6 linked regions of the Homo sapiens genome follow. The protein of the gene in region 3 purifies or fractionates together with the protein of the main gene of each other region. This does not show direct contact. Each region holds a gene or a part of one and is shown on either strand. Other genes may lie near its edges.

Region 1 (4,863 bases), on a different chromosome or scaffold from region 3:
CAGGCTAAGGCTTTATAAAGATTCTGTTTTAGATCTCATTTCCTGATCTCACACCAGTCTGGGCACAGGTCTCTTGTCAGCTTCTATCCATCATCCGGGCTCTTTCCTCTGTACCCATAATGAGATGTTTGTATTAGAAATTGGAAGCCCTGGAAGCCAGACTTGGTTCCTGTAATTCTCCATAATCACATCTGATAGATTCCTTTGAGCTTGTTCTGTGAGGCCTCATTCCTGCTGGGAGAGGACTTTAACTATTTTCCTGAATGTTCCCAATTCCTGGACATTCCTTTAAAACTTCCAACAGCCATTCCTTCCACCTCTAGTGTTCTCTCCTTCAACAGGCTCCTGACAAACCTGGTGAAATTCAACTCTCCACATCATGGCTGCCTTCATCCTGGCAGTTCAGTGTGGTTGGCCAAGCAGCACCATTTGGCACAGCAAATCACCCCTGCCTTCTTGAAGCATTTTCCTCACTTGGCCTCAAGATCACTTTACGCTCTTGTTTTCCTCCTCCGTCTCAGCTGCTCCCCCTCAGTCTTGCTTACTGGTTCTTCTTCCTCTTTCTGGAATCACACATCACACTTGTTTGACAATTATACAGAAAGTCATACCAGTGACATAGTAGCACAGTCATATGGTCAGACAGTTCTCACAGAGACAGACACAGAGTCACAAATCCACAAGTGACACAGACCGAAGTGCTCCTACTCTAGGGTTTAAAATACCATAGTGGTGTCCCAGAGCGGCTCTGAATTAATTTCCTGGGATAGGGCAGAAGGCGATGTATGGTTTGCCACAGTCACAGCTTCTGGGACATGTTTATTGAGGGAGCAGCAATGAATTTGAATCATTGTTTTATTTTTCTTCATATTCCAGGTTGATGTTGATGCAAATTCACTGAATTCTAACGATGTTTTTGTCCTGAAACTGCCACAAAATAGTGGCTACATCTGGGTAGGAAAAGGTGCTAGCCAGGAGGAGGAGAAAGGAGCAGAGTATGTAGCAAGTGTCCTAAAGTGCAAAACCTTAAGGATCCAAGAAGGCGAGGAGCCAGGTGTGTGCTCTGGGGCCAAGGGCACTAACTAGAATTTATACTGATACGATTGCTAATCATCTTTTTTTCACCAAAAAGTCACTTTCTAATGGCTTATAAGGGTTAACAATCTCTCCATTAGTTGCAGAGGTGGGTGGGTGATGGTACCTGATTTCTTTAAGTAATTTCTCAACACTGAAATCAAGGTGAGATAATATTTGTTCATATAAAGCGACAGCAAGCATATGTCCCTGAAAATGCACTGGATAACTGAGTGTGTTTTCCACAGAGGAGTTCTGGAATTCCCTTGGAGGGAAAAAAGACTACCAGACCTCACCACTACTGGAAACCCAGGCTGAAGACCATCCACCTCGGCTTTACGGCTGCTCTAACAAAACTGGAAGATTTGTTGTAAGTGTCCTTAAAAATAGTGCGATAGGGCTGGTTGCGGTGGCTCATGCCTGTAATCCCAGCACTTTGGGAGGCCGAGGCAGGCAGATCACCTGAGGTCAGGAGTTCGAGACCAGCCTGACCAACATGTAGAAACCGTCTCTACTAAAAATATAAAAATTAGCTGGATGTGGTGGTGCACACTTGTAATTCAAGCTACTCGGGAGGCTTGAGGCAGGAGAATCACTTGAACCCAGGAGGCGGAGGTTGCAGTGAGCCAAGGTCGCGCCACTCCACTCCACTCCAGCCTGGGCAACAAGAGCAAAACTCCGTTAAAAAAAAAAAAAAAAAAGGGCCGGGCGCGGTGGCTCATGCCTGTAATCCCAGCACTTTGGGAAGCTGAGACGGGTGTATCACGAGATCAAGGAGTTCCAGACCAGCCTGGCCAATATGGTGAAACCCCCTCTCTACTAAAAATACAAAAATTAGTCAGGCATGGTGGTGGGTGCCTGTAGTCCCAGCTACTTGGGAGGCTGAGACAGGAGAATCTCTTGAACCCAGGAGGCGGAGGTTGCAGTGAGCCAAGATCGTGCCACTGGCACCACTGTGTTCCAGCCTGGGCAACAGAGTGAGACTCCATCTCAAAAAAAACACAAAAAACAAAAAACAGTGAGATAGAACCTAACAACGCCGGGAAGGGCATTCCCATGTGGCTCTGACACCTTCAGACATGCTACTGTTCTGAATCTCAGTTTCAGCCTGCCTACAAACCACGGTGACAACCTTTGCTCTACACAGGGTATTTTTTTTAAACTTTTATTTTAAGTTCAGGGGTACATGTGCAGGTTCGTTACATAGGTAAACTTGTGTTGTGGGAGTTTGTTGTACAGATTATTTCATCACCCAGGTATTAAGCCTAGTATCCATTAGTTATTTTTCCTGATCGTCTCCCTCATCCCACCTTCCACCTTTCGATAGGCCCCCAGTGTGTGTTGTTCCTCTCTATGTGTCCGTGTGTTCTCATCATTTAGGTCCCACTTATAAGTGAGAACCTGCAGTATTTGGTTTTCTGTTCCTTACACAGGGTATTTTAAGGATTAATGATATAATTAATGTGAAAGCATTAATGTTGTGATGTCCTATATAGATTAAGCTGTTCTTAAAAGTACTAGCTACTTTACACCTGTGTGAGCATGCAGTTGCTGTATGAATATATATGTGGCTAGATGTGTTAATTTAATAATTTGGCATTTTCTGTGGGCAGCAATCATTATTTCTGATCAAACTATGTAAATTTTACATGTCAATTTCCCAGCGGAGTAAAAATTTTCACCATATTGACTGAATTAAAAATATTATGGAAATATTATGATCATTGGGCAAAAATCACAGAAAGCTATATATGCAGTTACAAATTAACTGATATCAACAGGAATGTTTTATTTCATAGTCATTTACAAGCTTTGACTTCCAGTCCAGTCAGAAGTAAAATTAGAAGTATGTGTATGCATGTCTTAGTTCAAGCTCCTATCACAAAAATACCATTGACTGTGTGGTTTAAACCACAAACATTTATTTTTCATGGTTCTGAAGGCTGAGAAGTCCAAGATTAAGGCAACAGCAGATCTGATGTCTGGTGAGGGACCACTGTCTAGCCTTCTTGTGTCCTCACATGGCCAAGAGAGCAAGCTCTAGTCGTGTTCTTTCCTTATAAAGACAGACACTAAGCAGGGGCACTGTACCCTCATGGCCTCATCTGAACCTAATTACCTCCCAAAGGCCCCACCTCCTACTACCATGCCATTGGAGGCTAGGGGTTTAGCATAGGAATTCTGGAGGCAAACAAACATCCAATACAAAAGAATACAGGAGTGATTTTACACTAGGCTCTGAAATATCATCCTGAACCACAGCCTCTCACCTAAATTTCAAAAAAAAAAGTTATACTTTCTCTGTTTGACGTGCTAAGTTTTTGGTAAATTTTTCATTTAAAGAATGAATTCTTCTTTTATATAAAATTTGATCCACAGATTTTGGTCAACATGCCCTAGTGAATAAATGCAAACTTCATTTTTCAACACAGGAAAGAAAATTTCCCACGTATTTTGTCAGATATTTTGATTACTAGAAATAAAATTATTTGAGATGAAGTGGTTCAAGTCTCCCTTGAAGGTTATAAATGATTTGACCTACAAGTTAAAGATTTAAACAGTGCATTGAGATAAATATTTGGTTGCTGTATACCACAATTTGCTCACCTACTTTACAGGAAATCCCTGAACTTGCTATATTTTATAGATTTGTCATCAGAAAAATCTGCTGTTTTATTGTTTTGACTTGATATTGCATCCAAGCAACTTATTTTTCAGCATATGCTCCTATAATTTCTTATTAGAATTATTTATTAACATTGCTATAAATTAGTTGTTTGTTTCCAAGAAAAATGTATTTTACAAAAATAAGTACCTAGGCTTTGTTCTCAGTGTGTTTAAAGAAAAAAGATCTGTTAGTCTTTGGCTTTTTGTTATGCGTATATATTAGCCTTTAAGAGAAATATACATTTCCTCTGCACCAACTCATTTTCTTGTTTGATATTTGGAACCCCTTCTGCTCCCTTTATAGTTTAAGGCAAAGGATTGTTGCTAACAAATCTTTGATCTTATAATTACTATCAGAAAGTAGGCTTTACACGTGTAGATTCCTACAAGGCAGCTACAAGGCAGCAGAGCTTATTAACTAAAAGCACAGCTTTTAGAACCAATCTGCCCATGTGCTGTCACTTATCTGGTGGTAGTACTTGCTGGCTGTGTGACTTTAGGCTGGTTACTGAGCCTGTCTGGGCTGTAGTTGTCTCAACTCTAAAATGGTGGTAATCTTAGTACCTACTTCATAGAGCTGTGAATATTAACTTAGCTGTTGCATATAAAACATTAGAACAGTGCTGACGTCAAGTTAAGTGCTAAAGTTTTTCTTTTTAAAATGATTATGTGATTGGTGTATGTCCTCTAAAAAGATAATATAAACAAATCCTTTGCCTTCTAAATGGTCAAGGTTTTTTGTTTTGTTTATTTTGTATAACAATCTCAAAATCTCATCAGATTAGAACAAACATGAATTGTCATGCTCAGATGTCTGCAGGCTGCCAGGAACTAGGTTTATCTATGCTGGGCGCATGTTTTGAGTTTATACATATTTTTCCAGTGACAAAGTCAAGGACACAAAAAGGCCCTTGCTGAGTCACCTTTGCTAATATGACATGGCCAACGCCCCAGTCAGCTCCATAGCACCGCAAAGTCACATGCCAGAGGGAGTGAATAAAGAATGGGGAACCATAATCCAAACTCCTGCGTAAGGATCAGGGGGGTTTTCACTCAGAATTCTCTAAAAATACTGAACTTTAGATTAATACATGCCCATTGGTATGTATTACCAATGGGTGG
Region 2 (4,863 bases), on a different chromosome or scaffold from region 3:
GGGGACATCTTAACATTCCTAATTTGTTGCTTCAATATGCAACCCAGGCATTAGGCCAAAGAAAAGCTGTTGGAATGCCAGTTTTTAAACAGAAAATTCAAAAGGGTTGTATAAAGGGAAATGCCAGAATGGACGACAGACATCTAAGACCACCCTGATTTTTTTTAAGAACACAAACATCATATATTCCTATTAATAAAGCTACTTTGGGACTCATGGGGAGAGAAAGAAACATAGCTTAGTTCACAGGGTAACTAGTTAAAGGAAACAAGAAAGGAATTTATTTAGGCTGCCTTTCTCTTAACAAAATAAGTGGTGATGGCTCTTATTTAGAAACCTGCACAGCCATCCAAATGATATGATATGGCCCCTGGGCAAAAGTTTCTCTGTACTATACTTAAGGCAATGCCACTTTCCAAATTCATTTCAGTGTTATTTACAGAAAGGGCTCCTAAATTTTGTGTAATATTTTGAAATGATTGGTTGAAAGGGGCCATATCTTGATGAAAGCACTGAAATTGTTTTAATGTTCTCTGGTCTTTAATGAAAACTCTATCTGCTTTTTCAAAGATCACAAAGTTAAAAGGCACTTCTGAGACAGTTTTACCTTGTTATCTAGGTAAGGTTATGAGAAAACACCATTTAATACCAAATTCTCAAGGTAATAATACTCATATTAGCTAGTTAATAATGGATTCATACAGTTTAGATATGTGAATATCATGATTTATCACATACCAATGACTTTAACTATGTTCTTTTGCAGATGAAGCAGGGAGGCAAATATTATGATCAAAGTGTTTGGCTTCTGGAGAGCTGGCACAGGGATAAGGGGAATATTTCTAAATAGGTTTTCCAAATTTTGGCAAGAACGTGGCTTAGCGCAAGTTCAAACATACACCAGATTCACTTACTCCACAAACTTGATACGTACATTTATACCTACACCATTATCATTAAGAAATACAATGGGACTACCGTGGAAATCCAAATTTTCAATTCCCCTTGTCAATTCAGATGGTATGTTAAGAAATACAAAGTTTCAACTTTCCACAGAGGTTTATATAGCACATAGAGGTCCTTCAAAAAAAAGTGCCTTTCGAAATGAAAAACTACTTATTAGCCAGTAAGTAATTAGTGGCTAATTAGTAATTTTAAAAATTTTTCTATTGACTTGTAAGAATTAAATTTAGGTTTTTTGATGTTTATCATTATTTCAATGTCAGGACTATACTATTTTCTCAAAGTATACTAAGAAACCAATGATGGCAAACTATTAAATGAAGATTCCAACATAAAACATTTCAGATTAACCTGTTTACCAGTAAAGTAATGTTTGGGAGTCCAATGGAAGTATTTGACCCTATTCATACAATTTATTGATTCTTTTACCCAGTGTTGACTACGCACCCACCAATCACTAAGCACTGAGCTAGGCACTGGGGATCTGGGAGAGAAGCAGCAGCCCCTGCTCTCAGGTATCACAGAGAGGGTCAGGTGGGCCAATAAACCAGTGCTGAACCTAGTAAAATGCCAGGTCTGCAAGGGGGGAAAGCCTTTGGGGTTGTAGCATGGCTGCCAGGCGCAACGCACGTGAGAAATGCCTACCAGAAATGGAGCTTGAATGGAGTCTACCAGTGAGGTCATGAAGGGACTCATCAAGCTGTGAGACAGGGTGGTACTCCAGGCAGGAGGAACGGCACTTGCAAAGATGAGGAAGGGCCTTTCTCTTCCAACTCTTACCACAACCTTATGATGGTTATGGCACCTCCAATGAGGGCTATCGCTGATAGCACTGTGCTGAGCTCTTTAGATGGGGTAACTCATTTAATTTTCCGAGCAACCCATGTGCTAATATTACCCCCATTTTGTACATGAAGAAGCTGAGATTCAGGGAAGCTATATAAATTAACTATTCTAAAACAGCATTCAAATCGAGAGCTATATGACTACCAAGTTCTTATATTACCAGAACTTTCATGTCGTGCTAGAAAGGTGGATCTTTTCTTATCTGGTTCCTAAAGTTATCTTGGATAACTAGCCAAAATTAACTATAATTTCTAATTCTTTTTTTTTTTTTTTTTTGAGATGGAGTCTCACTCTGTCACCCAGGCTGGAGTGCAGTGGCGCGATCTCGGCTCACTGCAAGCTCCGCCTCCCGGGTTCACGCCATTCTCCTGCCTCAGCCTCCCGAAAAGCTGGGACTACAGGTGCCCGTCACCACGCCCAGCTAATTTTTTGTATTTTTTAGTAGAGACGGGGTTTCACCGTGTTAGTCAGGATGGTCTCGATCTCCTGACCTCGTGATCCACCTGCCTTGGCCTCCGAAAGCACTGGGATTACAGGCATGAGCCACCGCGCCCGCTCAAAATGTAATTTTAACTATTATTTAGAACAGCTATTTTGAGATATAATTCACATAGCATACAATTCATTCATTTAAAGCATATGCTTCAATGGCTTTTCTTATATTCATAGAAATGTACAACCATCATCACAATCAATTTCAGAACACTTTCATCATCCCAAAAAGAAACCCTGTATCATTTAGCAGTCACTCACCAGTTTTCTCCTAGTACCCTAGCCCTGGCATACAGATAATCTACCTTTTATCTCTAGATTTGCCTATTCTGGACACTTCCTATAAATGGAATTATATTAATGTCTGGTCTTTGTTTCTGGTTTCTTTTAGTTAGCATAACATTTTCAAGGTTCATCCATACTGTAGCTTGAATCAGTACATTGTTCCTTTTTTATGGCCAAATAATATTCTATTATATGTATATACCAAATTTTATTTAACCGTCCACGAGATGACTATCTGTGGTGCCTCCATCCTTTGCCTTTTGTGAATAATGCTACCATGAGCGTTCATGCCTTTTTGTGAACGTATGCTTTAATTTCTTTTAGGTATATACCTAGGGGTGGAATTGCTGGGTCATATGAGAACTCTGTTTTACCAATTGAGGAACTGTAGACTTTTCCAATGTGGCTGCACCACTTTACATTCCCACCAGCAGGGTAACAGGGCTCTGATTTCTTCCCATTCTCCCCAGTACTTGTTATGGTCTGTTAAACTGTAGTCATGCTAGTTGGCACCGAGTGGTATCTTATTGTGGTTCCGATGTGTCCTTCTCAATAACTAATCATATGAAGCAACTACCTTTTCATGTGCCTACTGGCCACTTGTATATCAATTTTGGAGACATGTCTATTCAGATCCTTTGTCCATTTTTAAATCGGATTACTTATCTTTTTATTATAGAGTTGTAAGAATTCTTTATACATTCTGGATCCAAGTCCCTTATCAGCTATATAATTTGCAAAGATTTTCTCTCATTCTGTAGGCTGACTTTTCACTTTCTTGGTTGTGCTCTCTGAAGCATAAAAGCTTTTTTATCTTTTAATTTTGATGAAGTCCAATTTGTCTACATTCGCTTGTGTGGCAGATGCTTTTGGTGTCATATTCGAGAAGGCTTCGTTAATCCAAGGTCATGAAGATTTATTCCTATATATTTTTATGAGTTTTATAGTTTTTCTTCTTACATTTGAATTTTTGATCAATTTTTAGTAAATTTTTATATATGGTGTGATGAAAGGGTCTAACTTCATTCATTTGCATGTTGACATCCAGCTGTCTCAGTATTATTTGTTAGAAAGGTTATTTTTCCCATTCAATAGCATTTTCCTCAAAAATCAATTAATTAATGAAAAATGTGGGAGACAATTTCTGACTTTCAATTCGATTTCATTGATGTACTTACTCTATGTCTATCCTTATGACAGTACCACACAGTCCTGGTTACTGTAGCTCTGTGGCAAGTTTAAAAATTAGGAAGTATGAGTTCTCCAACTTTGTTCTTTTTTAAGGTTATTTTAGCTATTCTCTGTCCCTTGAATTTCCATATGAACTTTAGGATCAGCTTGTTGATTTCTGCAAAAACACCAACAGGGATTCTGAAAGGGATCATGTTGAATCTGTAGATCAAAATGGAGGCTATGCCCATGCTAACATTATTGTGCCTTCCGATACATGAATATAGGATGTCTTTCTCCTTTATTTTGGTCTTTTAAAATTTCTTTCAACAATGTTTAATAGTTTTCAGAGAATAATTTTTACACTTCTGCTAAATTTGTTCCTAAACACTTTATTCTTTTTTATTTTATTATAAATACAATTGTTTTCTTGATTTCAAGAAAAAGTTTTGGATTAATTTTAAACATTTTTGTAACCACATGTTTTACTACTTAATTCTCAAGAAAGGCTTAAAATGATTTTTTTTTTAAATTTGCTCTCCTCATTTTTACTCCATGTTACAGAAGAATGCTCTTTTAAGGAAGAAACTATATAAAAGCATAGAACATGAGGGCTGAGACTATCCCAAGTGAGAGGTGAAGAAAGAGAAACGCACAGAGGCTGCACACCTGTCCTGAGTCAGGACAAGTAGCCGAGCCGGACCCAGGCCTGTCTCACTGGCTTTCTAGCCTTGTGCTGTTTTGCTAAGCCACAGTGCAATGCAGGAGGAATCTCTTCTGCGATGAGATGACCTAAGTGTTTGTGAATTATTATAGCACATGTGGATAATGGAACCCCTATAATTAACTTAAATACATACTTGATTTATAAAGCCTTAAACTATAAGATTCTCGTTAGAAAGAGGACTAAGAAAAGTTAGCTCAATGAATGGAGGGAAAGCCAGCTCTGTTAGTAACCAGCTGTGATATCTTACACAAACCATTTAACCACTCTGAAGTCATAGTCTCCTCTGTGTACTACTTGCATATTAACATTTGCCATGCCAAATCACTGGGTACACTAATGTAGGTTAAATGGCATTTCTTACAGAAATGTAAGAACATCAC
Region 3 (4,863 bases):
GGTATATACACCAAACTGTTAACAGTAACAGTTAAAAGGCAGTAATACCTGAGTGATAATATTTCACTGCATTTTTTTATTTTTCTGCTTACCAGTTTACCTTTTTAGTAAAAAAATACATATATATATATAAATAAAACATATACACACAAATATATATACACATAGCCTACACACATACTTACATATAATTATTTCTATATCTTTTATAAAAAGATAAGCTTGGTTCTACTTTTAGAGCCTACGAGTTGTAAGAGAATCCTAGCCATTGCTCACCTTTCCTTTGTGCTGAATTCGGTGAAGCCGCAGGTTGGGCTCAGGAATGGCTACAGAGTCTCCAATGAGCACTCCCCAGCTCTGCACTATATTGTACACCATCACTGCATAGCAAGGTCCATCTGAATCTACCAGGCCAAATGTACTACCAAGTAAAGACAGATTAGGAGAGAGGAAAACAAAAAGGTATGTGGGTAGGAAAGAAGAGCAGAAACAGTGGTTTAAAAATACTAGCAAAATACTGGACTTAAAGTCAGTGACAGGTAATTAAAATAAAATATAAAATTTAACTTAATTAAACTTTAAAAATAAAATACTAACAAAATAAACAAATGCTTTTTCTCAGTTACTCAGAAAACCTATGAGAGGTACCATCTTCCACTTTATATATCTGAGTCTTCATTTTTCTGAAACTCATCAGTCACTTTGCTAAGAACTTAGGACAAAGCACACTGAAGCCATTCAACAAATATTAATGATGAACTAGACCAACATGTTACAGTTGTAACATTATTCCTGGTCTATCAATTTAACTATCATACTCTTAACCAAAGCCTCTAACCATCACTGTCTGTGTAGTTTAACTCCACAAACTTTCACTGAATATTACATATGTGCCAAGCATTGTGTTTAGCAATAAGATACCAATCCAGCTATGAATGACCTATAGTCTAGCAGGAGTCAGACAATGAAGTCATCACTTACAGCACAGTGTGATGGGTGCTAGAATAGCTTTTCCCTTGTGCTGAATTCAATGAAGCCACAGATTGGGCTGTGGGAGCCCAGAGGACAAATATCTAAATCAAAATTGGAAAGCAGGGAAGATTTCCTGGAAGAGGTGACGCTCAAAGTGAATCTTAAAGGGTAAAAAACCAGCTGGGTTAAAAGAGAAAAATTAATCCTCGGTAAAAATGTTAAAAACCTCTGAGGGGATAGGAACAGAGATTTTGACTTGGAGGCAACATCAGGGAACTTCCCAGAATGGTGGTAATGATCTCTATTTGGGTTATACAGATATTTTCCATTTGTTAAAAGCTATGAAATGTACGCTTAAAATTGTACATTTCATTGTATGTAAATTTTACATAAAAAGAAAAAATTGAAACAAATACTGAACTCAGTTAATGACTGCATGCTAAAGTATGTAAAGTATATTGATCTCTGCAATTTACTCTGATAGCAGGATAAACAGACTGATATGTAATAAGCTAAGTAAAATAAAATATTAATGGTAGAATATAAGTGGATGAGAACACAAATGTTCAATGTAAAACTCTTTCAACTTAGCTATATGTTTGAAAATTTTTATACAAAATGTTGGGGGCAGAAGAGGATGTTAGCTATGTCAAGAAGAAGCTAGAGATTATCCAGGCAGAGTAACTGTATGTAAGACACAGAGGCATGAAAACAGCTGTTCTAAAACCAACAAAATTGTTCCATGGTTGAAACAAAAGGCACTGGTGGGAAAGAGACAAAAGATAATAGAAAGAGAAGCAGGGAGCAAATCATGAAGGACTTTGTATGCTAACCTAAGTAGTTCACACTTTATCCCAAAAGCTACATATAGTACCAGTAAGGGATCTTAAATAAGAAGTAGCAATGGTCAGATTTCCATCTAAGAAACATTTCTCTGGCAGCACTGTGGAACACTGGAGGAAACCAGAGAATCAGGGAGACCTATCTGGAGAAGTGATAAGGGGGTGAATTAAGGTGGTAAACACAGAGAAGTCAAGTCTATAGGACAAAAAAGGCAAATCTTTTTGGAGAATGGAGAAGCCTATTCTTCCAAAAGTCTTAATCAAGTGACTGAGAGGTGATACCATTCATTCACAAGGAATCCAGGGAGGAGAAGCAGGTTTACAGAGAAAGATTTAGGTGAGTAATACTGAAATACTGAGTTAGAGATTTCTTATTGGAACCCAGAAGCAGATGGTTATAGGAATCCAACACTTGGAAATGAAGCTTGGGCTGGAGATATATCTGTAAGCATATAGGAGGCTGCCAAAGCCTTGGGTTTATATGACATCACAGGGCAAGATGATCTATAGACAGGATGGAGAAGAATCACACTCATGCCATCACGTGACATGCCTGAATTCACAGGAAATATTGCAATCAAGCAAAGCACTCTCCTGATGAATCCAGTCAAAGCCTCAGAATCCTTCTACACAGTATGTCAGGCAACCACTGACAAGTGATCAAAGTTGGCAACTATAGGCCATCCTGATATAAAGAGAAAAAAGGAAAAAAACAAAAATAGAGTCCTGGGAACCTAAGATTTAAAAGTTAGGCAGAAAAAGAGAAACCAAGGAGTGGCAAAATATCTATTTGTTCTCAAGGTCCTCCAAAACCTACCTTTGTCTATATCCCTTTCTAATTCTTCTCAGCTCTAGGATTTGCTCTAGTAAACTAAACTGTTCTCAACTATCTTTTTGCCCTTCAACTCGTCAAATATACAAACCCCTAGAAAATGCCATGGAGAAAGCTTGGGCATATAATGGGAATTGTGAATATTTCTGTTTAGATGAACAGAAAGGATGTGAAAAGCAATAGTGAGAGATAAGTCAGAATGTTTTGGAACCATGCAATAGAAGTTGCTGGATCCAGTGCCTAGAAAGACAATGGTGATCCTAGGAAAATAACAATTTCAGTAGAAAAGAGAAAGGGGAAACCGGTCAACCAGGGATTAGGAAGTGAGTGAAGGACCAAGGAGTGGTGGCATTCACTAAACCGTAACTTTTCAAGATCCAAAAATTTTCTAAACAAATATTCTTAATTCATTTCCTCTGCTGCTAGAAGCACCTGCACCTGGGTCCTTTACATTTCTTTTTTCTCACTCCCTATGACACATATATTACACACTCAATAAATATTTGTTGAATGACATCTAAGACAATCTCCCAACCAGACTTTAAATTATAACTCAAAGCTCACTTTTCAGAACTAAGTATACCTAAGTACAAACAGGACTAAGAAATTTGTCCTCCTTCAACTTCTATGATCATGAAAATGCAAAGGGACAGAAGAATTTTGAGGTTTCTGTCTTATAAAAAAATATGTCCTGCCAAATTTCAACTATGGATATAGGAATCCACATAGCACCAAACTCAGGGATACAAAATGGGCAGTGACAGAATCTACAAAAGCCTCTGATCAAAAGATGGTTAAACATCACCCAGACAATATCTGCCCACGGGATAGTCACAGAAGGAAATCAGAAGTCACAAATCTGTGACCACTGACAATCTCCTCAACTGCCAGGGAAAGAACAGGAAGTGAGAGCAATTAGTTCAAAAGGGTAAAATGGGGGAAATCCAAGAGAAACTCACAAGGGGACTTTCTCCTCTGTGGTGAGGCTAAATACCACCTTTCCCAGGATGACGGCACCGCTGTTCACCCCAGGCTGAAGCGTACTCAGTGGCTTGAGCTCCAGGGTCACTTTCTGCCCAGAGGCTGACTGATAGTGCCCATCACTGCAAGGGCCTAGATGGGCTGGGCGCAAGCTTCCCAGCATGCTCTGCAGCTTTTTGGTCTTCACCTTTCCCTGCAAAGAAGGGGAAATAGGTAAGAAGCTGGAAACTAGTCGCCTTCCTTGAGATTCTAATCCTTCCCTCCCACCCACTTCTATAGGGTCTCTACCTCGTAAACCTATTTATTCTTATTTTATTGACCCACGACAAAATAAAAAAAAAAAAAGTGGAATTCAGCCCTTCAGACATTTTTACCTTACTCTCAAGGAGGCTGGTTAATCTATCCAGGAATTCCAGAAGTTGTTGCTCTCGTTGCCGGGGCTCTGGCCAGGCAGGGTCCAGGGCTGCAGCCCGAGAGAAGCCCTCCAGGGCCTCCCCATAACTCTCTTCATATTTATGCAACTGTACAAGAAGTGTATCCCAATTATAAGTATATCCAGACAAACTATCCCGAGGGAATGGCACCATGGGCTAGGAATCTAGAGAAATAAACTGTTTTCCTTCCTGGTTATTTTCCTGTGCTGCAACAAACAGCCTGAAGAGCTGGTAACACCTTACATCCTTCTTCCTAGCCAAGATGATCACAACCCCAAAGATGGAATCATTTCAAAGAAGCTAATTTCCAAACTCTAAAATAGTTAAGTTGTATATATTGGCTCACTTGACCTTTATATTTACTTAACATTTCAGAAGTCTTCTAAAAGATCCCCCCATTCTCTACCTATTCTTCCACCTCCACAGCCCCTTCTCCTTTCCCTCCAGTGACTACACCAGATACTGAAGCCAAACCGAGCTAGCTATTTATAGAAATAGCATGGCTTTCCTCTCGCAGTCTGTACCCAATCTTGTCCCTATGCAAACTCAGTTATCCTCACAAGCTAAGACATAGGTGTCTTATTTATTTGACCCTCAGATGACTACACCCCAAAGGTCTTACCGTCGCCCTGTTCAGATGAAGGTCAGGATTGCTAGAAGCTTTTCTGTCAACTTTCTCCTATAATGGGATGAAAAGATTATCAGTGGATCCTGTCTCAATGTTAAGGACTGACATGCCCAACATGTCCTACGCCTCCTCTTTCTAGAGAAATGGAAGTTTCTTCCTTGCCAAAATGGTATT
Region 4 (4,863 bases), on a different chromosome or scaffold from region 3:
TCCAAAACCAGCATAGCCTTCCCAGGCCCAAATTTCATGCATCTGCGGCCTCAGTTATTCTCAATGGCTCTGGAACTTTCAGCAAAGACTTTCACACACTATCCAGTGCACACGCTTTATTTTGGCATTCAAGCCACTGCACCAACTAGGTCACAGGGAATGTTAATTAAGGCAAGATAGGTAGAAGGAAAGGAGGGTATGTACAGCAATTGCTCCTCTTTACGGAGAAGAGAACCTGCCACAGAACAAGATGCAGTTGGTTTTGTGGTGCCTGATGAAGAAAAGAAAAGGGTGGTCTGCACAGAATCTTGGCTCCATTCTGCTGCACCGGGAATTCCTGACCACAGCAGTGGCTGCGGCAGCCTCTGTGCCTTCCTCATTGACCTCCACGAAGCACTTGTGGGCAACCTTGGACAGAGGCACATTCTTCTCAGTTGACATTCCAGAAAAGTCTGCCTTGGCTTCGTCAAAAGCATCGATCATTCCTAATCTTCGAAGGAAAGGCTCCAAGTCATAACTCTCCTCCAGCTTTAATCTGGGAAGGAAAACTTGAACCTTACTTTTTGTCAACTTTTCTGAATTTGTCCAGGCTTTGAATTTCTCATATGTAAGTGCTTTTTCCACCTAGGATAAGAAAGACTCAAACCTTAAAATTTAGATGACAATAGCCTGATACCCACACACCCATTTATTACCCCTCCCCCAATGACATGCAATTAGATGGTGAGTTCTGGTCCAAGAAAATCTACAGATATTTTCTTTTATAAACACACCAAGATTTTCTCCCAAATTTTCATCTTTTCACAGTTTTATGGAGACAAGTGTAAAAGAGCTAGTAAACACCTGAGACAGGCAGAAATTTTTAATAAAAACAATTTGTACCTAACTCCTTTCAAATGTTAAAAACATTTTTTAACAGTTTAGAAAATTCTAACCAATTCATTACATTAATCTTCATGCAATACATACTACTGTGAGTGGGAGAGATTGTTTGACAAAAGACAAAGAGCATGGCTCAGAACTCTGCTTCTGAGTCTAATGAGGGGACTATTCAGGGTTAAATCAGAGGGCAACTCAGAGTAAAAGAGAGGGAATTGTGTTTCATCTGAAGATGAAGGGAGGCATGAGAAGGGAGCATGAGACGAGAAATGGGGAATGCAAGAAGACTTCATCAGCATCCTTGTTTGTCCTCTGCCTGTCCTGGAGTTAGCTTCAAATTCTTCAAGATCCATCACTCTTTCTATTTATCAATAAGGTAGAAAGAAAAAAGGGAGAAAGGCCTTCCACTAGCATCTCCCCTTCCCTTTAACAACTGGAGCCCAGGTGGGTACTCCTCTCCAACGAGCATTGTTTTGATTTTGACTCTATTTCTAGACTCTCCTAATTTTCTCATAAGTGGCCACAACAGATGTCATCCCTGACTTAGGGCAGTAGCTTTCTGATTCCAAAGGGAAGCCAGGAAAATCAAGCAGCCCACCCTCAACATCCTGTGCATTGGTGTGCCAGAGCTGACCCCTATCAATTGTTAAACCCTCAGTAGACTAAAGTCGGCCATGGTGGGAGTATTTACCATGTCATGAGAATCAGCAAACTTTATAAATGAAGGCTTCTCCCACCTCCCAGAGCTGGTTTACAAGTGCACTATTAGTCTTGCACCTCCTACCTTGCAAGTTTACCACTTCCCTTCCTGGACTCTGTTCCTTTTCTGTCACAGTAAGACTTTTCTCTCCTCTTGTATAAGGTAAATTTCCCACCTGTACTTTAGACTTTTGCTATTCATAGTGTGGTTCCAAGCATCTGTATCACTTGGAATCTTGTTACAAATGCAACATCTCAGGCCACACTCCATTGAATCAAAATCTGCACTTTAACAAGATCACTAGAATCATATATGTGCATTAGTGTTTGAGAATCACTGCCAAGATTGATCCCTACCCTTCTTCCAGGACTTTTGTGCAATAATCATTGGGCTTTCAAATAGACCTTCCATGCAGAATAAAGAATAATATTCCAAATAATAATATATTTAGAACTCTCTCTTCTTAGCTTCATCAAAACTTGTCCACTCATATATGTATACACTCAACAGAAATGCATGAACATGTTCATCAAAAGACACACAATGATGTTCACCCAGCACTGCCTGTAATAACCCCAACTGGAAACTCCTCAAATGCCAATTGGTAGATGAACATAAAGAAATGAGCTCAGCTGGACTCCACAGATACTCAGGCTCATTGCCTGGAGCTTACCACGGCGAGGTCCGTGTTGTCATCGGGAAGCAGAATGACCATGCTCAGCTCCTCTTCCACATAGGGCAGCTCCAGGACCTGGGTGTGTACCTCATCCGCATACCCCATTTTAAACTTAGCTTCCTTAAACATCATCTGCACTGTCTTTTTTTCCTAACGGAAAAATTAAAGTTCGATTACTGAAAAGTGGGTATAATTTACTAAAAATAGGATATATCTAACTCACAGAAACTCTAGGTGTGTATAATTACTGTTTCTGCACATTTATGCTGATAGATATAAAATCTTCATTAGTACATCTTAGTATTGAATAGAACAAGCTATTGTTCCAGCAGATCAAATATTACCAGGTGAGAAAAAAAAAACAGTTTGGTAAATGGAGAAGGACACAAAAATTGACATTATCCTTGGAAGAAGCTGTGTTTGCTTTTTTGAGAACATTCACAGAGAAGCTTTCTCATGGAAGCTTCCAACTAAAAATTCTTTATCGAAGTTAAGATAAATATTCAGGCCCTTGGGCTGAAGGATCTGGTTAGAAAAGATGTACGGTCCAAACTCTGGAAAGTTGCCTTGTTGTAGAATTGGTTTTATGGCCTTGGCTTTCTTAGGAAGGGGACCTTGAAGAGATGTGTAAGGTCTGCTGTTTTTAAAGCCTGCATCAAATATATTTTTAACTTTCATATCTTTGTGCAATATGAGAGTATCATATTTGATGGATGTCAAATCCCAAGCTAACAACTATTGATACCAGCCATTTTAATATTCAAAAGGGAAGGTAAAGTTAGGCTTTACATCTGCTAACTTTTTTTTCTTGTGCTCAGGATTGTATAACTTTGACTTTTAAGGCAATAAATAGGCATAGTTGCCACTGATATTGCAAAAAGGTATCTAACTAAATACAGAGAGTAATAGCATCATGCAAACATAATTCCAAGGCTTAGAAGAAATTCTCCTCCAATCCAAATCATATGACCAGAGATGGAAGGTAGATTTGATCAAAGATGGAAAAACAAAACTATCAATACCAAAATTATTTTTGTTTCTCTCTTCCTTCCGCCATTAAAGATACACAGGAGGCATTAAATTCATTCAGAAAAGAAGCCAGGCACAGTGGCTCCTGCCTGTAATTCCAGAACTTTGGGAGGATAAGGCAGGTGTATCACTTGAGGCCAGGAGTTTGAGACCAACCTGGGCAATATGACAAAACCTTATCTCTACAAAAAATACAAAAATTAGCCAGGCCTGGTGGTGTGCACCTGTAGTCACAGCTACTTGGGAAGCTAAGGTTGGGGAATCATTTGAGCCTGGGAGGTCGAGGCTGCAGTGAGCTGAGATTACACCACTGCACTCCAGCCTGGGTGACAAAAAGAGACCCTGTCTCAAAGAAAATAAAATAATATAATATAATTCAGAAATAGATTAAAATCAAGATCATGTCAAATAAATTATTCATTTTTCCAAGAGAATATTTCCTGTAATATTACTTTAAGAAAGTAGCAGTATATCTGAAAAATCTTTCCCTACCTCGTTGGTTTTAAAGAGCATTCCCCTTGTGTACTTTCTGTCAAATTGCTCATTCCACTTTCCCTTGAAATAAATGGCATTCACAAGGACCAGCTTTGTCAGGGGATCGACTGTCCCAGCATCCAGTACCTCTGAAATCTTACCTATAAAGAATATGAGAGTTTATTGCAATTTGTGGGGAAATAAGCATTCTTTTACAAAAATCCCTTTGACACATAAGGCAGAGGCTTGGTTGAGAGACAGGCTGGAGTTCTGTCTTTCTGGGCCCCTGATGAATTAGGCGATGGTGTTTAGCAGTGTGGCATACACAGTGTAACATTTGTGCTTAAGAAAAAAATCTTGAAGTAGGAAGGGCAACTATCATTTTGCCCTCAATTTATGGATGTAGAAATTCAGGACCAGAGCATTTGCCAGACTTTTGCTGAGTGCACACAGGTGACAAGTGGCTGAGTTGAGAACATCACCCCAGAGTCTTGATTCTGACTATGGGGCAGTCAACCTTGGCACTATCATATCCAAGCCTCACCGCTATTGTCATTTTAAGCCAGATAATTCTTTGTTATGGGGGCTGTCTTGTGCATTGTAGGATGTTTAGCCAGCAGCATTTCTTCCCATTTTGACAACCAAGATTGTCTTCAGCCATTATCCAATGGCACCTGGAGGGCAAAGCTACCCCTGGTTGAGGATCATTGCTCTATGCATATATTCAAACCTCATCAGACAAGGAAAGCTTTCCAAAGGATGAGAGAACACAGATCTGTCAATGGGAGAAGGCAGCCTCTCTGAAGGGGGTGAATGGGGCAAAGGAATTAGGGGGGTAGAATAGAGGGGCCCAAATTGAGTTGTCCAATGAGAGGGTAACAAGGTCATCTCCAAGGTCCCCTTCAGCTCTAATATTCTGGGGGAAATGTGGGTGGTCAGCCTAAGGGAAGGAAGGGCATAAGCAGCCCTGGAAGAGCAGTGACAGGTATAGGGCAGTGGGGGGAAGGTGTGGAGAAACTTCTAGGTTCCTCAGGTGACAGTACTGTTGAACAACTGGAAAGACCACTAGGCAGATGATGTATGAAAACACAAAAGGCTCTTCCCT
Region 5 (4,863 bases), on a different chromosome or scaffold from region 3:
CATACATTGAAATCCCCATCAGACAATATTAAATTTTTTGCTTTCAACCATCATTTCTCTTTTAAAGATCTTAAGAGGAGAAGAAAATTTTATTCTTTTTTTCCAGATATTCCCAGATGACCTCTTAATTTTTTTTTTTTTTTTTTGAGCCGGAGTTGCGCTCTGTCACCCAGGCTAGAGTGCAGTGGTGTGATCTCGGCTCACTGCAACCTCTGCCTCCCGGGTTCAAGCGATTCTCCTGCCTCAGCCTTCTGAGTAGCTGGGACTACAGACACGTGCCACCAAGCCTGGCTAATTTTTGTATTTTTAGTAGAGATGGGGTTTCACCATATTGGCCAGGGTGGTCTCAAACTCCTGACCTCGTGATCTGCCCGCCTTGGCCCTGCAAAGTGCTGGGACTACAGGTGCCCGCTGCCATGCCTGACTAATTTTTTTGTGTGTATGTTTTAGTAGAGACGGGGTTTCATTGTATTGCCCAGGCTGGTCTCGAACTCCTGAGCTCAGGCAATTTAACCAACTTGGCCTCCAGAAGTGCTAGGATTACAGGTGTGAGCAACTGCAATGATATGTTTAGTGATTTGTCCAAAGTCACAGTTGTAAGTAGTAGCTAATCTAGAACCAAGATTTTCACACTTCTGTGTGTGTGTGTGTGTGAGAGAGAGAGAGAGAGAGAGAGACAGGGTCTTGCTGTGTCACCCAGGCTGGAGTGCAGTTGCACTATCTTGGCTCACTGCAACCTCCACTTCCTGGCTCAAGCGATCCTCCAGCCTCCACCTCCCAAGTAGCTAGGCTCACAGGCATGAGCCACCATGCTCAGTTCATTTTTGTATTTTTTTGTAGACATAGGGTTTTGTCATGTTGTCCAGGCTGGTGTTGAACTCCTGAGCTCAAAGACATCCGCCCGCCTTGGCCTTCTAAAGTGCTGGTATTCAGATATGAGCCACCTTGTCCAGACAACTCTTTATAATTCTTTTTCTCTTTTTTTGGAGACAAGGTCTTTTTGTCGCCCAGGCTGGAATGCGGTGGCGCGATCATGGCTCAATGCAGCCTCAACCTCCTGGGCTCAAGCAGTCCTCCCACTTCAGACTCCCACGTAGATGGGACTACAGGCACAGGCCACTATGCCCAGCTAATGTTTGTACTTATGTAGAGATGGAGTTTTGCCATTTGCCCAGGCTGGTCTTGAATTCCTGAGCTCAGACTATATGCCTGCCTCAGCCTCTCAAAATGCTGGGATTACAGGCACGAGCCACTGCACCCATCCTATTTTCACACTTTATTACTATTACTGTTGTATTTTTTATTTTTTTGAGACGGAGTGTCGCTTTATCACCCAGGCTGGAGTGCAGTGGTGCGATCTTGGCTCACTGCAACCTCTGCTTCCTGGGTTCAAGCGATTCTCCTGCCTCAGCCTCCCAAATAGCTGGGATTACAGGTGCCCACTACCACACCTGGCTAATTTTTGTATTTTTAGTAGAGATGGGGTTTCACCATGTTGGCTGGGCTCATCTCAAACTCCTGACCTCAGGTGATCCACCCGCCTTGGCCTCCCAAAGCATTGGGATTATAGGCGTGAGCCACCATGCCTGGCCTATTTTCACACTTTAAAGCCAATGGTTTCTTCATTTTCTTCTCTTCCAATTGACGGCATAAATGAGATTTTTTGGATTACTTTGATGATACTTTATTCAAAATTGTCTTTATGGCTGCTTATAGGAAAAGCGTCTTGGCAGGAAATGTTAAATCCCAGTTCATAGATTTCACCCACAGTATGTTGATAATGCAACTGTGCAATTGTATTTTGTCTCTCTCTTGTCTGTATGAGACTTTGGGATTGGTTCAGTTCTGTTCATCTTGCCAGTGTTCGTAGAATTGAAAATATTTAAACATTTTTATTTAGGTCTCCTTTTGTGTTTGACCCTAGTTCTGTGTTCTGTTGGCTGGGAGTAGAGTTTTTGCCTTAATTTGTTGATTGATTCATTCACTCATACAGTAACCTTCTGTAAGTCTACTATGTGTAAGGTACCATGCTAATTTAGTCAGAAGATTAGTATTTTTAGGCTCTTAAGAGTTAATATCTCCTTGGAGGAAATGTCAAATAATTGATTTGTTAAACAGCAGACTAATAATTATGTATCCAAAATGATGGTTAAAATGTATTGCTTTGGAAAGCTATATGGGTATTCTAAAATATTTTTGATACTTGCCTTTTTGAGTTATCTTCACAACTTTTGACACAGAGAATGGATATATTCACTAGATAAGGGATATGGTGGTGAAAGGCAGAGAAAAAAGAAACAAATATGAATCTTTGCCTTCAAAGAGTTTAAACTTTGGTAGGCAAATTAAAAGGCTAAATGACCATTAAAGAAGGCACACTCTCTCTCTCCAGATAGAGATTATATTACTCAGACAATTACTGATCCTTAAAAAACATAAAGTCTGGTGGTGAAGGTAACAAACAGAAATATTGGGTTAAAGATACTGAGTGTGACAGAAGATATGGAGCCATGAGATTTTAAAGGAAGAAGCGATTTCTTCTCACTGGTGTGATTGCTTTATGAAAAAAGCTTCTTTGAAATGAACTCCGAAGGAAGTTAGGATGTGATTATGTAGGAATGGGGGAAGATTAAGCCCATTCTATTAATTAATTAATTACTTAGTTTTTTGAGACGGAGTCTTGCTCTGTTGCCCAGGGTTGAGTACAGTGGCAACCTCCACCTCCCTGGTTCAAGAGATTCTTCTGCTTCAGCTTCCCAAGTAGCTGGGACTACAGATGTGCACCACCATGTCTCGCTAATTTTTGTATTTTTAGTGGAGACAGGGTTTCACCATGTTGGCCAGGCTGGTCTCAAACTCCTGACCTCAAGTGATCCACCTGCCTCGGTCACCCAAAGTGCTGGGATTATGGGCATGAGCGACCACGCCCAGCCTAATTTATTTATTTAATGGATAGTTATTGATTGCTGTTATCCCTAGGGAACACTGATCTACTGCAAGAGATGGGAATGAATCAGGTATTTATGGGGACTTCTGTGTAACTTACTTTGATTGGAGTGTAGAACATACACATATGTGTTCCTGTGTGTGTATGAGAGAGAGTTATTGCTGGTGATAAAGCTACAGAAATAGATTGGGGTTAATGCATAGAAAGCTTTGATTGCCACACAAATTAGGTGTATGCCAGGGGCCCCCCAGGTTTTCAGAGAATGATGAGTTGTGATCAGAATTGCACTTTAGAAAGTTACTTGCCAGGTGCGGTGCCTCACACCTGTAATCCCAGCACTTTGGGAGGCTGAAGTGAGTGGATCATCTGAGGTCAGGAGTTCAAGACTAGTGTGGCCAACGTGGCAAAACCCTGTCTCTACTAAAAATATAAAAATTAGCTGGGTGTGGTGGCACGCACCTGTAGTCCCAGCTACTTGGGAGCTGAGGCAGGAGAATCACTTGAACCTGGGAGGCGGAGGTTGCAGTGAGCCGATATCTCACCCTGTACTCCAGCTGGGGCGACATAGCAGATGTGCTGGCTAGAGTGGATTGGGAAGATAACAGAAACCATTGCAATAGCCCCGATAAGAGGTAATAGGGACTAGAGACAGTGAAGATGGACAAGAGGGAAATGGTGGGTCAAGGTATGAGCCTTGACCCATGATTGGGTGGGAGGAGGACGGGAAAGGACAGATTCAGAAATGTCTCAGATGTCAACTACAGTTGACCAGATGTGTAGTAGTGGTTTTGATTTTTTTAAATAATGGTTTTTAATAGAAGTGGGTTTTAAAAGAAATGGAAAAGCCACAAGAAGGAGCTGTTTATGCAGTGATGCAGTTTTGAACACGAAAAGTTTTTTTTTGTTTTATTTATTTATTTTTTTGAGGTCCTTGATGGGTGTATGTTCAGCTGGAGATGATATTCCTGGGAAAATTTGGGGTTGTCAGTAAGGAATTTGGTAGTTGAAGCTTGGAAAAAGAGGAGAAAAGAGCCATTGACAGTCTTGGGGAATGGCTATGGTAGATGATGAGAGGAACAAGAAAAGCAGAGGACCAGAAATCAGAGATAAGAACCCCTTTGGGGCAACGCTGGAGCTGAGGGAGAAAACTTTTAAGGAAAACATGGTCTCATACCTTTGAGAGTTAATTTTTTATTATTATTTTTATTTTCATTTATTTATTTTTTCTGAGGCGGAGTCTTGCTCTATCACCCAGGCTGGAGCACAGTGGGGCCATCTCGGCTCACTGCAACCTTCACCTCCTGGGTTCACGCCATTCTCCTGCCTCAGCCTCCCGAGTAGCTGGGATTACAGGTGCCTGCCACCACACCTGGCTAATTTTTTATATTTTTAGTAGAGACGGGGTTTCACCATGTTAGCCAGGCTGGTCTCGAACTCCTGACCTTGTGATCCACCCACCTCGGCCTCCCAAAGTGCTGGGAGTACAGGCGTGAGCCACCATGCCCGGCCTATTATTGTTTTTTATATATACAAATATAAATATAAATATATATAAATATATAAATATAAAAATATATATAAATATATTTATAAATATAAATATAAAAATATATAAAATATATTTATAAATATAAATATAAAAATATATAAAATATATTTATAAATATAAATATAAAAATATATAAAATATATTTATAAATATAAATATAAAAATATATAAAATATATTTATAAATATAAATATAAAAATATATAAAATATATTTATAAATATAAATATAAAAATATATAAATATATTTAAAAATATAAATATATAAATAAAATAAAATAAAAATAAAAATATATAAATATATATAAATATATAAAAATATATTTATAAATATATATATAAATATATAAAAATATATTTATAAATAT
Region 6 (4,749 bases), on a different chromosome or scaffold from region 3:
GGCTCAATTGAGTCCTTAGCAAACAAAACAATCAAAAATGTATTTTATGCAAATGAAGCTCTTTTTAGACCAAGTACCTCCCAACTGCAGTGCTTCCCGCAGCACTCCAAGAAGAGTAATTCCAGGATAAGCAGATTTCTCTAAAGTCTCAGTGGCAACTAGTGCCCAACTTTGCAAGGTTTGATTTAACGCTCAAGAATGGCAAATGAGGCCGGGCGCAGTGGTTCACGCCTGTAATCCCAGCACTTTGGGAGGCTGAGGCGGGCGGATCACGAGGTCAGGAGTTTGAGACCAGCCTCACCAATGTGGTGAAACCCTGTCTCTAGTAAAAATACAAAAATTAGCTGGGCATGGTGGTGCATGCCTGTAATCCCAGCTACTCGGAAGGCTGAGGCAGGAGAATCACTTGAATCCGGGAGGCAGAGGTTGCAGTGAGCCGAGATTGTGCCACAGCACTCCAGCCTGGGCAATAGAGTGAGACTCCATCTCAAAGAAAAAAAAAAAAAAAAAGAATGGCAAATGAGGCCGGGCATGGTGGCTCACGCCTGTAATCCCAGCACTTGAGGAGTCCGTGGTGGGTGGATCACGAGGTCAGGAGTTCAAGACAAGCCTGGCCAACATGATGAAACCCTGTCTCTACTAAAAATACAAAAATTAGCTGGGCGTGGTGGCGGGCGCCTGTAGTCCCAGCTACTCAGGAGGCTGAGGCAGGAGAATTGCTTGAACCCAGGAGGCAGAGGTTGCAGTGAGCTGAGATCACGCCACTGCACTCCAGCCTGGGCGACAGAGTGAGACTGCGTCTCAAAAAAAAAAAAAAAAAAAAAAAAAGGCAAATGATAATGATCCTTAGGAGGGCATCTTGGTCATAACACGGTAAAGCTTTCATCAGCACAAAAGACATCTGGTAGTTAAGTTATATGGGTAAGAAATCCAAAGTTTAACTGTTTCTTTTTCAGATATGAACTTCATGGAGAATGGGATCTCATTTTATCATTGACTCCCTTTCTTCTTCTTACAAGTAAACCAAATGAGCCCTGCCTCACATAAAAATATTAAACTCTTATATAAACCTTATCAATGGCCTGAGAACTGCAAGGACATTCACTAAGAGATTTGTGCAAAAATTGTTTTTCTTGGAGAGCAGACTAAATTGTAAGAAGAAACAAACTTCTAGAATAATTTGAGAAGGGAGTTGCTTCTATTTTCACTAAACAAACAAGGGAGGTTTTATCTGAAGTTTGTATATAGCATGAAAATGTACTTAATACATTAAAATTCTAAATAAATACTGACCATTGGTATTATAAAGTGTGATTTGGTACATTTGTGGAATTTGAGGACTTACTTTGAAAGTTTCTATTAACACATTAATAAAATGTAATTGTACATTTCAAATACAATTGTGTTTACTTCACATCATTTATTCAGAACATCAGTTCCCTCAGTTATTGTCACAACCTTCAACCCTTTAAGGAGTTGTACCAAAATTAAAAACCATTAGGTTTGATAATAACAAGTGAGAAAAACAACTCCTTAGGGGTTAAATGTCATAAGCCAAATATAAATGGTTAAGAAAACATTTACAAGTATTATATAGGTAATATAATTAATTACAAATTGTTTTCTGTTCATTACAAATATTTGTTTTAAACTTGAAAATGATGCACAAATAGGGTCTATGTGATGTTTACGTCTTCTGAGGGTCTATGTGATGTGTGTGTCTTCTGTAATGCTAATATTACCCATTACACAGATTTGGGCTAATACTGCACCACAGTACTGAGAATGTGCTGGATCTCTAATGCCATCAATGGAAGTGGACTGGATACCAAAGTACTGGATTTCCAATCTCTCGTCCAATGTCAGTTCTTCTTTAGTTAGTAGGAGGTGAAGCATCTACCTTCCCCATGGCTTCCTCATTGAAGAGCAGCTTTCGAAGTATATTTGCATAAAATGGTCCATACACTTGTTTGTTGAGATTCACAATGTTTGCATATTGAGAGCCTAGGGCTTCTAGCTCCTGCTGAATGACAGCTAGGCCTCCTGGCATAGGAGGCATGCATTTTTGAGGGCTTGGAAGACAAAGTAGCCTTCTCATGTAAAGCTTAATTCGTTTATCTGAAGGGGAAAAAAAGATACTTTTATCTGTCCATTATTAAAGTACATAATTTTTAAAAACAAGAACAAGTAATTGTAGTAGGTTGACTGCAATAATGTTCCCAATTCTTTACCCCTCCCTGCACCCATCCCCTTTCCAAGGTAGCTTTGCAGTTCCTCCTATCAAAGCTGGAGTGTGTTTTTCCCATCCTTTCCATCTGGGCTGGCCCTGTGACTTACTTTGGCCAATACAGAATGCGGTGGAAATGCCAGAGTACCAGTTTCATGCCTTGGCCTCAAGAGGCCACTCTTGTTCATGTCCACCGTCTACCTACTACCGCCATGAGAATAGGCCTGGGCTTGCTGGAGGATGAGAGACCAAGGAGAGGGAAACCCAGCTGTTCCATCTGAGGCCATCCTAGACCAACCCATAGCCAACCAGCATTCAAACACCTGAGAAAGTCCAGCCAGGATCAGCAAAGCTTCCATCCTGAGTCACAGCTGAACCACAAATACATTAGTGAGTTCAGCAAGACCAAAAGAGCCACCCGGTCGCCTCACAGACTGGTGAGTAATAATAAATGCTTATTTTTTTTAAGCTCAGGAGTTTTGTGGTATTTTGTTATGCAGCAATAGCTGACTGATAAAAAAAAAAAGGCAGAGCCCTATTTGGGGGGAATCTTCTACAAAAGTTAATCCTAAATGTTCATGATTATAATTACATACACTAAAGCTGAGTTTGTAAACTGGCATTGCCAGTCTGGCCCATGCAGTGTCTTTTTTAAAAACAGAAGCCATTTAAAATCAGGAGATTTCACATAGAAATCCATATTTCTGCTTTCTCTTGAAAAATCTAGAGATCTGGCAAACTTGGGGGCCCAAATTACCACATGGCAAGGGGGACCACACATCTAGGTTTCCCCAGGACAGTCAAAATTTACACCTGTTGTCCTGGCATAATTTTAAAAAGAGACTCTCAAAAGTACCCTGGTTGAACAATAAATTACATGGTGCCAGGCGTAGTGGCTCACACCTGTAATCCCAGCACTTTGGGAGGCCGAGGTGGGAGACTGATTGAGCCTAGGAGTTCGAGACCAGCCTGGGCAATATAGTGAAACTTCATCTCTACAAAAAAAATTTAAAAATTAGCCAGGCATGATGGTGTGTGCCTGTAGTCCCAGCTACTTAGGAGGCTGAGTTGAGAGGACTGCCTGAGCTCATGAGGCTTCAGTGAGCTGTGATCATGCCACCACACTCCAGCCTGGGCAACAGAGGGAGACTCCATCTCAAACATAATTAATTAATACTAAATAAGTTACAGGGTACTTCACACATGGCCAAGAATCAGGAGACACTGAGGAAGGGACATCCCAACCAGCACACCATTGTGCCACCTTCCCTGCCCTTCCTGCATCACTGCCTCAATGTATTTGACTTTGAGACGACTACACAAAAGCATAGAAATGCATATGGAAATCAGGCTGCAATAGTATAGGACAACTATTAATAATACTGGACAGAAAAGACCTGCTATAGCTCAGGCTGCTCCAAGGGCTTTCTCTGGCTTTGGGAACAGAAACCTCACCAATAAGAAGGTTTACTAAGGAAAATATGCCACATTGAATATAGACAACTATGATACTACTAAAATTCTTATCACCAAAGAATGCTCACAAAAATCATACATTCCAGCTAGGTCTGACCTAGAACTTGTTTCCAATGTCTATGTCTTAGAATTCTTTCCTTTTACTAGAATGCCCTTCAATCTCATCTCATTTCATCTCATCTCTGCCCAGAATCAGAGGCATCCTTCAATGTCGTGCCAAAAGTTACCTCCTTTCTGTGACTTTCCTTAGCATCTGTTACCAGACTATCGTGACATATGATTGCCAGTTGAGAAGGTGTCTCTCTCCCTTCTTGGACAGTGGACTCTCTGAGCGTGAGGTTTATATCTTTTTTATCTTTATATTCTTGGTCTGTCATGTGACAGACACATTGTAAATGCTGACTGAACTTAAGTGAGAATGGACTGAAAAGAGTCTATAAAGATAAATAACGAACTGAAAACCGTGGCAGCCAGGGGAAAATGGGGACTGAAGAAGGCAAACAAAGGTGACTTAAGCCTTATCTGTATTTTTTTTCTTTTTTTATATATAGACAGGGTCTCCATCTGTTGCCCAGGAGAGTCTCAAACTCCTGGCCTCAAGCCATCCTCCTGCTTTGGCCTCCCAAAGTGCTGGGATGACAGGCATGAGCCACCGTGCCTGGCCTTTGTCTGTAATTTTTCTACAAGGAGAAATTATTGTATCACCTGTGCAACTGAAATTACTTGTTAAAAGTGTAGATGGCAGGCCAGGCACAGTGGCTTAGGCCTGTAATCCCAGCACTTTGGGAGGCCAAGGTGGGCGGATCACGAGGTCAGGAGTTTGAGACCAGCCTGGCCAATATGGTGGAACCCCGTCTCTACTAAGAATACAAAAAAAATAGCTGGGCTTGGTGGTCCGCACCTGTAGTCCCAGCTACTAGGGAGGCTGGGGCAGAAGTATTCTTCTTGAACCCAGGAGGCAGAGGTTGCAGTGAGCCAAGATCACACCACTGCACTCCAGACTGGGCGACAGAGCAAGACTCCATCTCAAAAAAAAAAAAAGTAGA

The links.
Region 1: the proteins of TTC5 (region 3) and SCIN fractionate together in Homo sapiens (co-fractionation; one large-scale study listed by BioGRID). This does not show direct contact.
Region 2: the proteins of TTC5 (region 3) and GMDS fractionate together in Homo sapiens (co-fractionation; one large-scale study listed by BioGRID). This does not show direct contact.
Region 4: the proteins of TTC5 (region 3) and SERPINB8 fractionate together in Homo sapiens (co-fractionation; one large-scale study listed by BioGRID). This does not show direct contact.
Region 5: the proteins of TTC5 (region 3) and SWAP70 fractionate together in Homo sapiens (co-fractionation; one large-scale study listed by BioGRID). This does not show direct contact.
Region 6: the proteins of TTC5 (region 3) and TCP11L2 purify together in Homo sapiens (affinity purification with mass spectrometry; one large-scale study listed by BioGRID and IntAct). This does not show direct contact.

Annotation. Positions count from the first base shown.
Region 1 is NC_000007.14:12,643,262-12,648,124, forward strand, and holds part of SCIN (scinderin), read left to right. Parts: intron 1-876; coding exon 877-1,054; intron 1,055-1,322; coding exon 1,323-1,444; intron 1,445-4,863. UniProt on the Homo sapiens protein: Ca(2+)-dependent actin filament-severing protein that has a regulatory function in exocytosis by affecting the organization of the microfilament network underneath the plasma membrane.
Region 2 is NC_000006.12:1,930,471-1,935,333, forward strand, and holds part of GMDS (GDP-mannose 4,6 dehydratase), read right to left. Parts: intron 1-4,863. UniProt on the Homo sapiens protein: Catalyzes the conversion of GDP-D-mannose to GDP-4-dehydro-6-deoxy-D-mannose.
Region 3 is NC_000014.9:20,291,707-20,296,569, forward strand, and holds part of TTC5 (tetratricopeptide repeat protein 5), read right to left. Parts: intron 4,741-4,863; coding exon 4,684-4,740; intron 4,149-4,683; coding exon 4,002-4,148; intron 3,821-4,001; coding exon 3,606-3,820; intron 422-3,605; coding exon 277-421; intron 1-276. UniProt on the Homo sapiens protein: Cofactor involved in the regulation of various cellular mechanisms such as actin regulation, autophagy, chromatin regulation and DNA repair.
Region 4 is NC_000018.10:63,982,635-63,987,497, reverse strand, and holds part of SERPINB8 (serpin B8), read right to left. Parts: intron 3,920-4,863; coding exon 3,777-3,919; intron 2,406-3,776; coding exon 2,253-2,405; intron 1,241-2,252; coding exon of another isoform or gene 1,232-1,240; exon of another isoform or gene 848-1,231; intron 625-847; coding exon 220-624; 3' UTR 1-219. UniProt on the Homo sapiens protein: Has an important role in epithelial desmosome-mediated cell-cell adhesion.
Region 5 is NC_000011.10:9,666,597-9,671,459, forward strand, and holds part of SWAP70 (switch-associated protein 70), read left to right. Parts: intron 1-4,863.
Region 6 is NC_000012.12:106,343,655-106,348,403, reverse strand, and holds the end of TCP11L2 (T-complex protein 11-like protein 2), read right to left. Parts: intron 2,119-4,749; coding exon 1,874-2,118; 3' UTR 1,401-1,873; downstream 1-1,400. UniProt on the Homo sapiens protein: Promotes the migration of muscle-derived satellite cells (MDSCs) during differentiation throught interaction with FMNL2 and therefore may participate in microfilament assembly.